2 separate regions of the Homo sapiens genome follow, and region 2 is linked to region 1. Evidence: fine-mapped expression QTL. Tissue or cell type: lymphoblastoid cells. Region 1 holds a variant in brackets; the other region holds the start of a gene. All regions are shown on one strand. Distances are between the middles of the regions.

What was found. PIP is the estimated chance that this variant, and not a neighbour inherited with it, causes the effect.
Region 2: it holds the start of PCGF2, and the variant in region 1 is fine-mapped to the expression of PCGF2 in lymphoblastoid cells (TwinsUK, PIP 0.95).

What each region holds. Positions count from the first base shown.
Region 1 is chr17:38,863,722-38,871,415 of GRCh38, reverse strand. LASP1 (LIM and SH3 protein 1) reads right to left here and starts at 1,358. Exons shown (of 7, transcript NM_006148.4): 1 at 1,158-1,358. The coding sequence starts at 1,226. It overlaps TRC-GCA2-2 (tRNA-Cys (anticodon GCA) 2-2), which reads right to left and starts at 3,771; the gene lies at 3,700-3,771. It overlaps TRC-GCA4-1 (tRNA-Cys (anticodon GCA) 4-1), which reads left to right and starts at 2,053; the gene lies at 2,053-2,124. RefSeq lists enhancers at 1-96, 1,109-1,258, 2,749-2,928, 2,504-3,104, 3,105-3,707 and 1 more, silencers at 699-798, 1,319-1,628, 3,049-3,148 and a cis regulatory region at 3,366-3,979. The variant A/G (reference allele first, on the strand shown) is at 3,350.
Region 2 is chr17:38,744,846-38,751,034 of GRCh38, reverse strand. It overlaps PCGF2 (polycomb group ring finger 2), which reads left to right and starts at 2,699. Exons shown (of 11, transcript NM_007144.3): 1 at 2,699-2,839; 2 at 3,064-3,156. It overlaps LOC100287808 (a long non-coding RNA gene), which reads right to left and starts at 2,001. Exons shown (of 1, transcript NR_149004.1): 1 at 1-2,001. RefSeq lists enhancers at 2,566-3,101, 4,130-4,894, 4,895-5,660.

The DNA.
Region 1 (7,694 bases):
GATGAAAGACGCGGTGAGGAAGGGCACAAAATCACAGAGGCCTCCCCTCCAGACTGGGGAGGGGATGCAGAGGGGCAGGTTTTACCTTAGGATCTTACGGAGCTTACAAGAGAACAGGATCCTACCCTAAACTGTACGGGAAACACCCAGTTCTACTCTCCAACCCCCCTCCAAAAGTCTAATGGCAACCAGATGAACAAGTCCAGCATTGGGGAGACAGGGCCCCCAGGGGACACTGAATCTCCACAAGGCCACCCTCCCCTCCCCCCAATACCTCCCCCTTTCCTCGGCTTCCCCAGAACTCAGCCAACCCCACCCTCCATTGGAGAAACCTGCTTTGAAAAGTTAGCTCTTTGTTCTTCCACACGGTCTCCTGGCTCTGAGCACAATTTCAGGAGATCTCAGCTAAGCACCCTCCACCCACCCTACTCTGCCACCCAACCCCACCCGGCTCAGGCTGGACGGCCCAGCACCGGGAGTTGGCTTTTAATTGGAGGTGGGGGTTGGGAAGCTGTGGAGGAGGTCTGCGAGTCCTTTAACGACTGAATCCAAGGGGGTGCAGGTCGTTCAAAAACGGGGCTCTTGCGGCAGAGCCCGGGTCCTTACCCAAAACCCCCCGCATCAGATGCCACACACTCGCAGGCTGATAGCCCCCGCCCCGCCAGGCCAGGAAGCCAGGCCACCCCCGCCGGAGCGGACGGTTTTGCAGGGCCCCCCAGCCTCTGCCCCGCCCCCCCGCCCCCTCCACCAGCGCCCCGCGCTTCCGCCTACTTGGCGCTCGGCGCAGAGCGGAGAGGGAGCGGCCGTCTCTTCTCACTCTCCAGGCCGTAGGGGGCGGGACTGCACCCCTAACCTTCCCCCAACACACCCCGGCGCCTGACTTCCCTGCTCCTCTCCCGTCCTCCCAACCCCGGGACACAGAGCCCACCCCTCTCCAGCAGCGGCTGCCCGCTACGCGTGGACTTCCCGCCTCGCCCCAGATCTCCTGGTTTTCAGACTGGGATGTGTCCCCACACCCCATGACACCGCCCGCTCGCCCTCCCTCCATTCTCCTGGGATCGCGGGGATAAGGCGGCAAAGACCCGGCCCTTCTCTCCTCCCTGGATTCGGAGCACTGCGGGGGATTGCAAAGACGCGTCTCCCGGTCCCGGGCTCACCTTATCCAGACAGTTCACCTTCTCCGTGGGATACACGATCTTGCCGCACCGGGCGCAGTTGGGGTTCATGGTTCCGAGAAAAGCTGGGGCGGGGACGCCTGAGCTCACGCGCGTCCTGTTCCCCGAGGCGAGCTGGCGGGAGGCGGCCGCGGCTGCAACTACACAGGCAGCAGCGACGGCGGCTGGAGCTGGGGAACTGGCCTCCGCCTCCGCCCTCCTTCCCCTAATAAACACAGCGGGGAGGAGGGGCTGCACTGGGGCGGGCACGCGCCTCGGGCGCGGGCAAGGGCACGCGCAGCGAGGCGCGCTCTCCGGGCGACGTGGGGCTGCGCGGGGGCGGGTTCCTGGGGGGACGGCGGGGCCCGCGGTGCTGGCGCCTCAGCGCTCTCAGGCTGACTGCGCCCGGTGCCCAGGGCCCTTCCCCAGCCGGAGGCGGCGCAGAGGCGAGCAGGCTGCACATCTGGGGCGCCCGGGCTGCGGGAGGCGGGCTAACCCCTCAAGCCCGTCGAGGGTGGGGTTGGATCCTCCTGAACGCTGGAACTGATTCACCGCATTCGGGGACTTTCTACCCGGCATGAATCTGCGGACCGAACGGGGACCCCCTACCCTGCCCCTCTTAGCTCTCTTCCGGCCCACACCCTTTCCCACATTTGTGGGGCGGAACCCGTCCCTCCCTCTTGGACCCTGCGCGCTGCCGGGCCCGGGCTAGTGCTTCCCTCTCGAGCCCCTGCAGTGCACCTTCCCGGGGTTCCCCGGATGCGGGCACCGTCTGCGTTCAGCTTGACCCCTTTTTCTCCAGCATTCCTTTCTCCTTCTGTTACACCACTACTCACAGTGTAGCAGCTGCAACAATGCTTAGCACCCAAGGAGCCGCCTCCAGGCGCTGTAGAGGCGCGGGGGTATAGCTCAGTGGTAGAGCATTTGACTGCAGATCAAGAGGTCCCTGGTTCAAATCCGGGTGCCCCCTCAATGGCTTGGTTTTTCCTTCCCCTTGTTAACCATCTGTTTTTCATTCTTGACTCACATTTTAACATTGGGTCCTGACTAAAAAAAAAAAAAAAAAGAAAAGAAAAAGTATCTTCCTCATTTTTCAACCTTAGCAGAAATCTTTCGGTTTTACTTTGTGCTCAGCGGGAGGAGGGGGTGGGTATAAAAGCTGCGCGACCGCATTACTCGCGCCAGAGGTGTAGGGATTTCTGCGGCCACGGGCGCCAGCCTCAGATGGGTCAGACAGTTCGAGGTGCCGGGTTTGAGGGACAGGATGTTTCCAATGGGGGTAGGGAGACAGGGGAACGCCTCAACTTGGCGTTCCTTTTGGGGGTGGAGGGTGGGTCAGGCGAGGGAAACCCATAGACACAGCCCTTCTCCAACTTCAACTTTCTGTATTAATGGTGACATGGACGTGCTGTGTTCATCCTTGACTATTAATGTACAAAAGTAAAGTTATAACCCAGTGCAAACTGAGATAAACGAACACAGTGTTTCTCAAATTTGAACGTGCATCAGAATTACCTGCAGGGCTTGTTAAAACACTGCTAGTTTCTGATTCTGTAAGGGGGCCCCGAGAATTTGCATTTCTACCAAGTTTCCAGGTGCCTCTGGTGCTGCTGGTGTGGGGACCACATTTTAAGAACCACTGAAGTAAGAATAAAAGGCCATGGAGTTTCATAACCTAAAGATGGGGACAAGTATCTGCTGGCTGCGTGCCTGACAGGGTCACTGTTGGGCCGGAGGAAAATGGTAAGTGTGACGGGAGACAAGGGCGTCCCCCTCGACTAGGTTTTGCCCAAAAAAAGGAAAAATAAAGGAGAAAGGAAGAGGCGTGCTGCCTGGGTCAAAGGGCAGCTGCGATATTTTAAACCCGGAATGTGGTTGTGTCATTCCTCGGACCCCGGGGAAACGCGCATTTTTTTCTCCTGGCTCCTATTACTGTGAGCTGTATCTCTAGGCTGAACAGAGAGATCACAGATCAGCAGAGCTGCGGTTCCGTGCAAAACCCAGGAGGAACCAGTTTTACCTCTCCTTTAGGCCTTGAACTTTCCATGTATAGCTTATCAAGCCAAAGCCCTGCCTATGAGCTGAGTCAAGAAGGAAGAGGGGAAAATTGCTCGCTGTCTACCTTCTATCTGTGTGCCCTGTCCTGTTCGAGTTCGCGAGTATATGAAAACCTCTGAATTTGGATTACTTCTCCT[A/G]GTTTTCATAGTCAAGTACGAACTACTGCCCCGTCCAAGACATATTTTTTACCCCAAAACAAATTATAATTAACGTTAAACCAATGGGCATCGGAGATGGAAATCGATACGCGCCTTTGTTCTCCAACTGAGAGTACTGGTGCGCTTATCGCCACTTGGGGTATGAGGGCTCAGATCCACCTAAAGGCAGCCTCTGGTTGCTGTTCTCTCCCTCTAGGGTACGGGAATCCTTTCAAGGTGAAAATTAGGTAGGTGGAAGATACAAACGACACCTCCCGTGAGTTTTGCATTCAGAACTCGCTGACTCAGGTTATTCCTGGATGGCTGTGAAAAAAACTTAAAGAAACCCGAGGGGGCACCCGGATTTGAACCGGGGACCTCTTGATCTGCAGTCAAATGCTCTACCACTGAGCTATACCCCCTCTGGCGGTGGCTCTCTGGTAAATTGTTTTTACATCGATTGATCCCAAAATTTTCATACTTTCACCATTCGTTCAAAATTAGTGTCTCTTTGCTAGATTATACTGAAATTACCAATGAGGAAGGAGAAATTAAAAGACTAGGCCAAGATAGGCCGGGCACAGTGGCTCACGCCTGTAATCCCCAGCACTTTGGGAGGCCGCGTCGGGCGGATCACGAGGTCAGGAGTTCGAGACCAGACTGACCAAGATGGTGAAACCCACCCCCCCCCCCCCCACCTCCGTCTCTACTAAAAATACAAAAAATTAGCCGGTAGCGGTGGCGGGAGCCTGTAGTCCCAGCTACTCAGGAGGCTAAGACAGGAGAATTGCTGCAACCCAGAACCCAGGAGGCGGGGGTTGCAGTGAGCCGAGATCATGCCACTGTACTCCAGCCTGGGCGACACAGCGAGACTCCATCTAAAAAAAAAAAAAAGGCTAGGCCAAGACGTGGTGGCAGTTTGAAAAGCGTGTGAATTTAGGTGCCAATCTGCTTTGTCTAGGTTCAGTTCTTTTTTTTTTTTTTTCTCCAGACGGAGTCTTCCTCTGTAACCCAGGCTGGAGTGAGTGCAGTGGCGCAATCTCGGCCTCCCGGATTCAAGCGATTCTCCTGCCTCAGCCTCCCGAGTAGCTGGGATTACAGGCGCCCGCCACCGCGCCCAGCTAATTTTTGTATTTTTAGTAGAGATGAGTGTTCCACCATGTTGGCTAGGCTGGTCTCGAACTTCTGACTTCATGATCTGCCCGCCTTGGCCTCCCGAAGTGCTGGGATTACAGGCATGAGCCACCGCACCCCTGCTTGGTTCAATTTTTGTTTGTTTGTTTGTTTGTTTTCCATTTTGTGGAGATGGGGGCAGGTGGTGGGTGAAGGAGGCCGTCTCCCTATGTTGCCCAGAGACGGAATTTCGCTCTCCTTGATCAGTCGGGATTGCAATAGTGCGATCTCGGCTCACCGCAACCTGTGCCCCCCAGGTTCAAGCAATTCTCCTGCCTCAGCCTCCCGAGTAGCTGGGATTACAGGCATGCACCACCACGTCTGGCTAATTTTGTATTTTTAGTAGAGACGGGGTTTCTCCATGTTGGACAGGCTGGCCTTGAACTCCCGATCTCAGGTGATCTGCCCACCTTGGCCTTCCAAAGTGCTGGGATTACAGGCGTGAGCCACCACACTCGGCCTAGGCTCAATTCTTTATCCACAATCCCACTCATCTCTCCCCGCTAGCAAGTCAGAGAACAACCTCCTGCAAAACTGGATAAAGTTTTTCCTTGGTCTCTCCAAAAAGAATACGAACACGCCATTGCACTCCAGCCTGGGCAACAAGTTTCGCTCTCAACAAGAGCGAAACTCCGTTGCAAAAAAGAAAAAAAAAAAAAACTAAGTAAGAAAGAAATCCTGCAATATGCAATAACGTGGATGAACCTTGAGGATATTATGCTAAGTGAAGCAGGCCAGTTACAGAAGACCAAATACTGCATGATTCCACTTATATGAGGTTTCTAACATAGTCAGACTCCCAGAAGCAGAGAGTAGAACGATTGTTGCCAGGGGCTGGAGGGAGTTGCTGATCAATAGGTCTAAAATGTCAGTTCTGCAAGATGAAAAAACTCTAGAAATCGGCTGTACAACATTTTGCCTTCAATTAACAATACTGTATTGTATAGTTGAAAATCTAAGAGGGTCTGCCAGGCATGGTGTCTCATGCCCATAATCCCAGCACTTTTGGAGGCCAGGGCAAGAGGATCACTTGAGCCCAGGAGTTTGAAACCAGTTTGGGCGACATGGTGAGATTCCCATCTCTACAAAAAAAATTTAAAAATTAGCCAGGTATGGTGGTGTGTACCTGTAGTCCCAGCTACTTGGGAGGCTGAGGCAGGAGGATTGCTTGTGCCCAAGAGGTCAAGGCTGCAGTGAGCCAGGGTGACGGAGCAAGACTCTGTCTCAAGAAAAAAAGAGAGAGAGAGAAGCCAGTTGGGAATCTATTGTAATAATACGGGTCAGAGATGGTGGTGATGTCTTAGACTACAGTGTTTTATTAGTTTTATATTGCTGATATAACAAATTACAGTCTATTTGCATAAAACAACAGAAATTTATTATCTTCACAGTTCTGGAGGTCAGAATCCCAAAATCAATTTCACTGGGCTGGCTGGGCTCGGTGGCTCATGCCTGTAATCCCAACACTTTGGGAGGCCAAGGCAGGCAGATCACGAGGTCAGGAGTTCGAGACCAGCCTGGCCAATATGGTGACATCCCTTCTCTACCAAAAATAGAAAAATTAGCCAGGCATGGTGGCTCACGCCTGCAGTCCCAGCTACTCAGGAAATTGAGGCAGAAGAATCGCTTGAACCTAGGAGGCGGAGGTTGCAGTGAGCCGAGATGGTGCCACTGCACTCCAGCCTGGGTGACAGAGTAAGACTCCATCTTAAAAAAAAAAAAAAAAAAAAATCCACAGGGCTAGAATTAAAATGTTAGTATGACTGCATTCCTTCTGTAGGCTTTAGGGGAGAATCCGTTTCCTTGACTTTCCCAGCCTATAGAGGCCGCTACATTGCTGCCTCATTGCCTCTTCCCCAGTTGTCAAAGCCAGCAGCATATCATCCTGTCTCCGTCTAGCCTTGGTTTCCATGCTTCCATGTTACCATCTCCTCTCTCTGTGACTCTGATCCTCCTGCCTCCCTCTTGTAAGGACCTGTGGGATTACACTGAGCTCACCTGGATAATCCAGGATAACCTCACATCTCAAGATATTTAATTTAATCATATCTGTAAAGTTGCTTTTATCATGAGAGGTAACATAGTCACAAATAGATTCACAAGGAGACTGGGATGTAGACATGTTTGGAGCGTCATTATTTAGTCTATTACAAGTAGGAACAAGTAGAACAGCCGAGCTAGAGAAGAATGCAGGTGGCCAGGCACAATGGCTCACGCCTGTAATTCCAGCACTTTGGGAGGCCCAGGTGGGCAGATCACCTGAGGTCAGGAGTTCGAGACCAGCCTTCTCAACATGGCAAAACCCCACTCTACAAAAAACACAAAAATTACCCAGGTGTGGTGGCACACACCTGTAATTCCAGCTACTCGGGAGGCTGAAGCAGGAGAATCAATAGAACCCAGGGGTGGGAGGTTGCAGTGAGCCAAGATCGCACCCCTGCACTCCACCCTGGGTGACAGAATGAGACTCCATCTAAAAAAAAAAAAAAAAAAAAAAAAAACAAAAACGCCAGGCGCGATGGGTCATGCCTGTAATCCAAGCACTTTGGGAGGCCAAGGTGGGTGGATCACCTGGGGTCAGGAGTTCGAGACCAGCCTGGCCAACATGGTGAAACCACGTCTCTACCAAAAACACAAAAAATTAGCCAGCCATGGTTGTGGGTGCCTGTAATCCCAGCTATTCCGGAGGCTGAGGCAGGAGAATTGCTTGAACCCAGGAGGCAGAGGTTGCAGTGAGCCAAGATCACACCACTGCACTCCAGCCTGGGCAAGAGGAGCAAAACTTAGTCTTGGAGGGAAAAAAAACAGAAAGAAAAGAGAAAAATCCCACTGAGAAAGGGGCGAGTTTAGGGGAAAAAAAATGAGTTTATTTTTAAAACTCTTAAAAGAAAGTAACAAAGTACAGCCCCATGTCCTCACAGACATCATGTTCCAGTATTGGGATGAACATGTTTCATTTAAGGTGCTTAACTGATATTTAAGAGTATGCGTTTCGAAGCCTGGCGCGGGGGCTCACGCCTGTAACCCCAGCACTTTGGGAGGCCAAGGTGGGCGGATCACGAGGTCAGGAGATCGAGACCATCATGGTGAACACGGTGAAACCCCGTCTCTACTAAAAATACAAAAAAATTAGCCAGGCGTGGTGGCGGGTGCCTGTAGTCCCAGCTACTCA
Region 2 (6,189 bases), 120 kb after region 1:
CTGTCTCGTCACCATTTTTAAAGGGATCTGATCCTCGCAATAGCTCTTGGTATATGCTGGAGGTAATTGCCTAGATTTCCCGCGTTCCTGTCCTCTGCGAGTCTCTGGCTTGTGACAGCCACTGTGACTCTTCTGATGCACTTGTCAGCTAGAGGACCGCGTGAGATGCAAACACAAAATCAAGGGGCGCCTAATGTCTGACGAGGCGCATTCCTGGGCGCAGTGGGAGCCTCGACCTTTGTGGAGGAGAATGTGCAAAGCACTCTTGAGCAGTTCTCATAGACACTTGGTCTCTGCAGATTCGGCTCAAAGGAGGCCTCTTCTGGAAGCCCACCCCAGTACTCACCCACCCTTAGCGGGAGCTCACACCAGAAGCGATGGGCGCTAAAGGGACAGGCTGTGTGTCCTTCAGGGTTTGCACCCACCGGCCTGTGAGCGCCCTGCGCAAAAGCCAGGCTCCTGTGCCTTGAGTTCCCAGTTCCTAGCGCAGTATTTGACACTGGCACATGACAGGTGCTTTCTATGTCGGCTAGTAGTAGAACAAAAGACTAGGAAACTCTTTCGATGTGGGAAGAGTTGGGTCAGAAGGTTCTCCTGAGAAACCAGAAAGGCCAGGAATGTGGAGACTAGTCATCCAGGACGCAAAAGATGAAAATGGAGTTTTAGTGGGTAATAGGGTCTTAGCACACTCCTCTCTAGCGGTTCTCTCCTGTCTGGCGCTTAACAACCGAAGAATAAGTGGATGGACCCCGGTGGCCCCTCGGGCAGCCCTCCAGGATTCATGGGCCGCAGAGGAACGTCAACCCCCTTCCCACTGGCTGATAATGCCCCGAGGGGCAGCCCCCCAGGTGCCCATGTGGTTGGTGGGTGGGATCCAGATCTCCGCAGAGCCCCTGTTACAGGTTTCTCTTGTTCGGGGTCTTGTAGCCAGAGAGGGGCGGCTGACTGGGAGTCCTTCCCGCGTTCCCCTCCCTGCAGAGCGAGTGGATGCGCGTCTTCCCCGGCAGAGTGCAGGATGCCGGCGACACATTTGCCTGGGAACAGTGGGAGGGTCCCCTTTCCTCCGGGGCCGGTGAACTACTCGCCTCTCCGCCTGCAGGCTCCGGAGCAGGTGACCGGATCTTCCCTTGGCCCTTCTCCCGCCGGTTCTCGGACCACTCCCTCTGGAAGGAAGTCTCTCCGCCCTTCCTCTTCCTCCCCGCCCCCGTCCCGCTGGTGTGGCTGCAGGCTCGAGCTGGGGTCACTCGGCGGCCAGTGTGCGCAGGTCTCCTGGTCGCCGGCCAGAGGGCGAAAGCATTCACCCGAGGCCCCCAGCTTCGCGGCTGCCTTGGCTGCGAGCAACGAGGGAAGAGGAGGCAGGCGCTCCAAAACTGGGCGAAGATTCCTATCCTAATTTCTAACTCGAGCCTCCCACCGTCAGTGCGCTTAATGGCGCTGCTGGCCGGATGGATAATCGAGCTCTCTGGAGGGACAGACGCGGCCGCCATCCCTAATAAATCGTGAATAACGAATGAGGGAATCGACCATCCTCATGAGGCCCACGGGCGTCCAGTAACGCAGTATCGATTCGCTTCCCCGGCGTCGGCCTCACCGCTACTCCCGGCGTTTCCAAGCCTCCCTCCTCGTTCTCTCCCTCCTGCCGGAGCCACTGCGGACCGGAGCCCCAGCGCCAGGTGGAGCCGGGGCGCCAGTGGGAGTCGGGCCCAGCCGTCTTGGCGCTCGCCCGACTCTCCCGCCCGCGCGCCCAGGGAGGCGCACAGGCAGCGCGCAGCGCAGGGCGCGAGCGAAAAATGCGGGAATCAGCGCCAGGCAGGAGAAAAGGCGCGGGCCCACCTTACAGCCCGGCGCCTCGTTTCCTAGTCCAGTGTGGCCGCTCGCCTTCGGCCGGATTATTGTGTCCCAGACCCGGAGCCTGAGTTCCCATCCTCAGCGGGCCTCCGTTCTTCTCTGCCCGAGCACGCCGGGGGCGCAGCCTCCGCCAGAGCTACCCGATCCCCCCGCGGCGAGGCCCCCCACCCGGCCTCACCCCGCACCTCCACTCCCCTCTCGCGATTGCTCCCTGCCAGGCGCCCAGGCTGGATCCTGGTGCGCCGCTTTTCGGGGCCAGCGCCCCTGCCGCCGAGGGGGCAAGGGGAGTGGGGAGGACACGCTCGCCCTCCCAGATGCAGTTATTAATTTTAAGGGAGTGTCACTTGGAGTGAATGAAAATCGCTCGGACGCCTGGCTGAAGGCGTCGCGTCCCCCGCCGGAGCCCCGCGCCCTTTGGTCTAGGCCGGGGCGTGGAGGACCACGAGCCACCTTTCAGCCCAGTCCCCATTTCACCATTTTCCAGGCGCCCCAGTTAGGGATGGGCATCACAGTGTCAGTGGGGGGAACCCATATTTTGAAGGGAGGGGGGCTAACTGCGGAAGGTAACATAAGAGAATCCATCCTCCGGGGTCGGGGCGGCCGCATGGGAAGGGAGGGGTCTCGTCCTGGCTAGGGACCCGGCAGCCGGTGGCGGGGAGCGGCCGCGCCAGCCTCCCCCTCCTCTTCCCGTCTCTGCCAGCATCCTGAAGGAATGAGGTCACGTGGGTGAGTGGTGGGCGGGACCTACTCTTGTCTGGAGGAAAAAAGCCATTTTGTCTCCCCCCCACACTCCGGTCCCTCCCCTCCCCCCTCGGTCCCCTCCCCTCCCCTCTCCCTCCCACCCCAAGCCGCTTTCACAAACTCCTTTCTTACCGTAGGTTTCTCCCCTCCCGCCGCCCGGGCGAGCGACACGGCTGCGGCCCCCCTCCCCTCCCTTCCCTCCCTCCCTCCCATCCCCCCCTCCCCGAGACCCACCGGACCCCGAACCCAGGTAAGCGGAGCGGACTCCCCCTGCCTTTCCCTCTCCTGGCCTGTAACCCTCTGGGGATTGGGATGGGGGCCGGCCGTTCTTCGCAAGCCCCGATGGGAGGGGGAGGCTCTGAGCCGATCCTGCCTTCGCACCCCCCGCGCCCCGTCAGTCCCTAGCCCAGCTTGCCCCGTCCGCCTTTCTTTCTCCCTTTTTTCTGTCCCTTTTTCCCTTTCCTCTCTTCCAAGATGGCCGAAACGGGCTCCCCGTCTTAACGATTTGGCGTCTCCCTCGACCACCACCTCTTTGTGCAGCAGCCCCCGGGCAGACCCTGTTCCGAGGTAGCGAGGGGGAAGGTCCGGGGCAGCCGGGAGGGCTTGCGGGATGCGCGCTGGGTTGGGTCGCCGCTCCCCACGAGCCAAAGCCGCCTCTCGCTCTGCCCGGTCTACCCCCTTTTCCATCTGGGCGGGGGTCGCTCTCCCGTGGGCACAGGGGCGCCGTGGACGCGCGGGGACTTGGGGCCGGCAGAAGGGGATGTGCTTTGGGGCGGCCGCGAGGCCGGGGGAGGGCGCCCTTCCCCGCCGGGGTCCGGGTCCTCTCGGGCACCTCCCCCCGCCGGTCCCCGCTCCCCGTCCCGGCGCCGGCGCCCCGCCCCCTCCCCGAACCACCTCAGCAGAGCCTCCCTCCGGAACACCCCTCCCGGGGCCCCGCAGAAAGTTTGGCTCTAGGGAAGGTGGGAGCGGCCACCCGGTAACTGGGGTCCCTGATCCTTGGACATGGGCTCCTGGGGAAGCCCGGGCGCTGGGGGTAGAATGGGGATGGAGGGAAATTTATCGCAATATTTCCCATCGCCAGCGGAAGCAGGGGGATCTGCTAAACTGGCCCCCCTTCCCCTGGGACGCCCAGCCACCCCACCCTGCGCACGCCCTCCTACTGCTAGCTCTGAGGGCGTGGGACCCCCGGGCAAGCAGACACCCCCTGCCTGTCTCCACGGTGGGCCCGGGCTGCCCCTCGCCCTCCCCCACTGCCCCTGTCTGCCCATAATCGCTCCGGTTGGCTTGAGGTGGGAGGAGGCGGCATGGAGGCGGGTGGATTTGCCAGTGAATATTGTGGAAGTGTTACCCAGCGCTTCCCGAGATCTTTGTCCCTCAGTGTCCCCCATGCTGCCTCAGTCTCCCCAGAGGTCTGTCTCGAGGGGAGGGCTGTCTCCTGGTTGTCCCCTCCCCGCTCTGTTCTGATGCCTCCTCCTCTGGGACCTCTGGCAGTTTCTGTTCCTGAAACTCTTTAATTTCTCTCCTCCCTCCCCCCTTCACTCTGGTCCAAGGTGTTATTACTGGGAGCATAAAGCCAGCTCTGTTGCAGCTTTTTGGTGGGAAGGTTTTCCCACGGGCTCCCCTGGTTGGGGGTTGGGGGATTGAGGCTTTAGAACTGACTTTGGAATGAAGCAGGAAACCAACCCCAGGATCCAGACCATGTGTAGCTAGGTAGGGTTCAAGTTGAAGTCTTGGGGGTTGGGCAGGAAGGGGGACTCTGCTGCCCCTGGCCTTGCCTGAGAGATCTTGGTTGATGGAGCTGTTGTCATGGGAATGGAGAGAGCCCGAACAGGAAGAGGGTACAGCTTTGTGCAGGTCACATGCCCACTGCAGCCCTCCAGCCTCTGGTCCCCAGAGCGGACTTTGGAAGCTGAACTGCTTTTGTTGCTGGAAGACTTATGTTATAATTTACCCTGGGTGGACCAGGGTCGTACAAAAGGTTAGTGTGTGTTTGCAGGGTCTGTTTCCAGGCAGGGATGTCAGGCTGTGTGCTTCTAGGTGGGGGGTGGATGTGGATGGCTTCTGCATGTAGCGAGGGTGGGCCTGGCTCTGGTCTGGCTGTGATTGTGTGTGTGTGTGGCGCAGGGTGGGGGAGGGTTGTGGCGTGTCTATCTGGCCTTGTGTGTAGTGAGTGTGAGAGGTGGAGGGGGGTGTGTCTTGCTGTATGTGTGTGTATCTGGCAATGTGTATATTTTGGGGTTTTGCCTTTGTTTGATCTTAGGGAGTTGAGAGGTGGGAGAGGGAGGAAGGGAGGGTTGAGTAAGCCCAGCTTCAGGAGGCCCTTTTCAATGCATGGTGGGGACAGGGGAGCAGATCTTTGTGCCATTGTCAAGGATTGGGGAAAGTTGGGAGGTTCACAGTGTCCCTAGGCAGACCCTCACGGCCCCAAACACAAATACAAGGGGCTTGCGCAGTTGGACCCACGAAGCTGGGAGAGGAACAGAGTCATAAAACCCCTGGTCTGAGTCTTGATGCTGTACTCTGGCTGGCTGTGCTTCCCTGCAGCCTCTGTTTCCCTATGTGTAGGAAGTGGGGTAAGGCAATTAACATGTGCCTCCTCTTCCTGCCTCAAGGCAGGAGTCCATGCTGATGGTCATGTTTGGGCCAGACTGACTCCCTCCCAGACGGCGGCCCACTGAGTGGTTTTCCCGCCACTCCAGGGAGCTGCTCTTTTCCCCTCCCACCTGCTGGGATGAAGCCGGGCATTACTGCTTTAGATGAGTGAGGAGCCTGGCCAGGTGCCAGGATGTTAAAAGCACTGGGGTGGGAGTCAGGCACTTTCTTGTCACAGGACTGCCACTGCTTTGCTTTGTGACCTTAGACAAGTCACATCTGAGTGTGCTCATCTGTAAAATGAAAGGATTGAACAGGTGCTTCTTTTTCTTTTTCTCTTTTTTTGAGATGGAGTTTCTTTCACTCTGTGGCCCAGCTTGGAGTGCAGTGGCACGATCTCCACTCACTGCAACCTCTGCCTCCCAGGTTCAAGCAATTCTCTGGCTCAGCCTCCTGAGTAGCTGGGATTACAGGCGCCTGCCACCATGCTCCGCTAATTTTTGTATTTTTGTTTGTTTGTTTGAGACAGAGTCTCGCTCTGTTGCCCAGGCTGGAGTGCAGTGGCGCAATCTCGGCTCACTGCAACCTCTGCCTCCTGGATTCAAGCGATTCTCCTGCCTCAGCCTCCCGAGTAGCTGGGACTAGAGGCGCGTGCCACCACACCCAACTAATGTTTTGTATTTTTAGTAGAGACGGGGTTTCACCATGTTAGCCAGGATGGTCTCGATCTCCTGACCTCATGATCCGCCCGTCTTGGCCTCCCGAAGTGCTGGGATTACGGACGTGAGCCACCATGTATTTTTAGTAGAGATGGGGTTTCACCATCTTTGCCAGCCTGGTTTTGAACTCCTGACCTCATGATCCATCCGCCTTGGCCTCCCAAAGTGTTGGGATTACAGGTGTGAGCCACCACGCCCAGCTGAACAAGGTGCTTTCTAAAAGCCCTTTCACCTCTGCAGTTCTAGACATCTGGATGTGACCTTGAGTGACTTTTCCCAAGACCTGGAG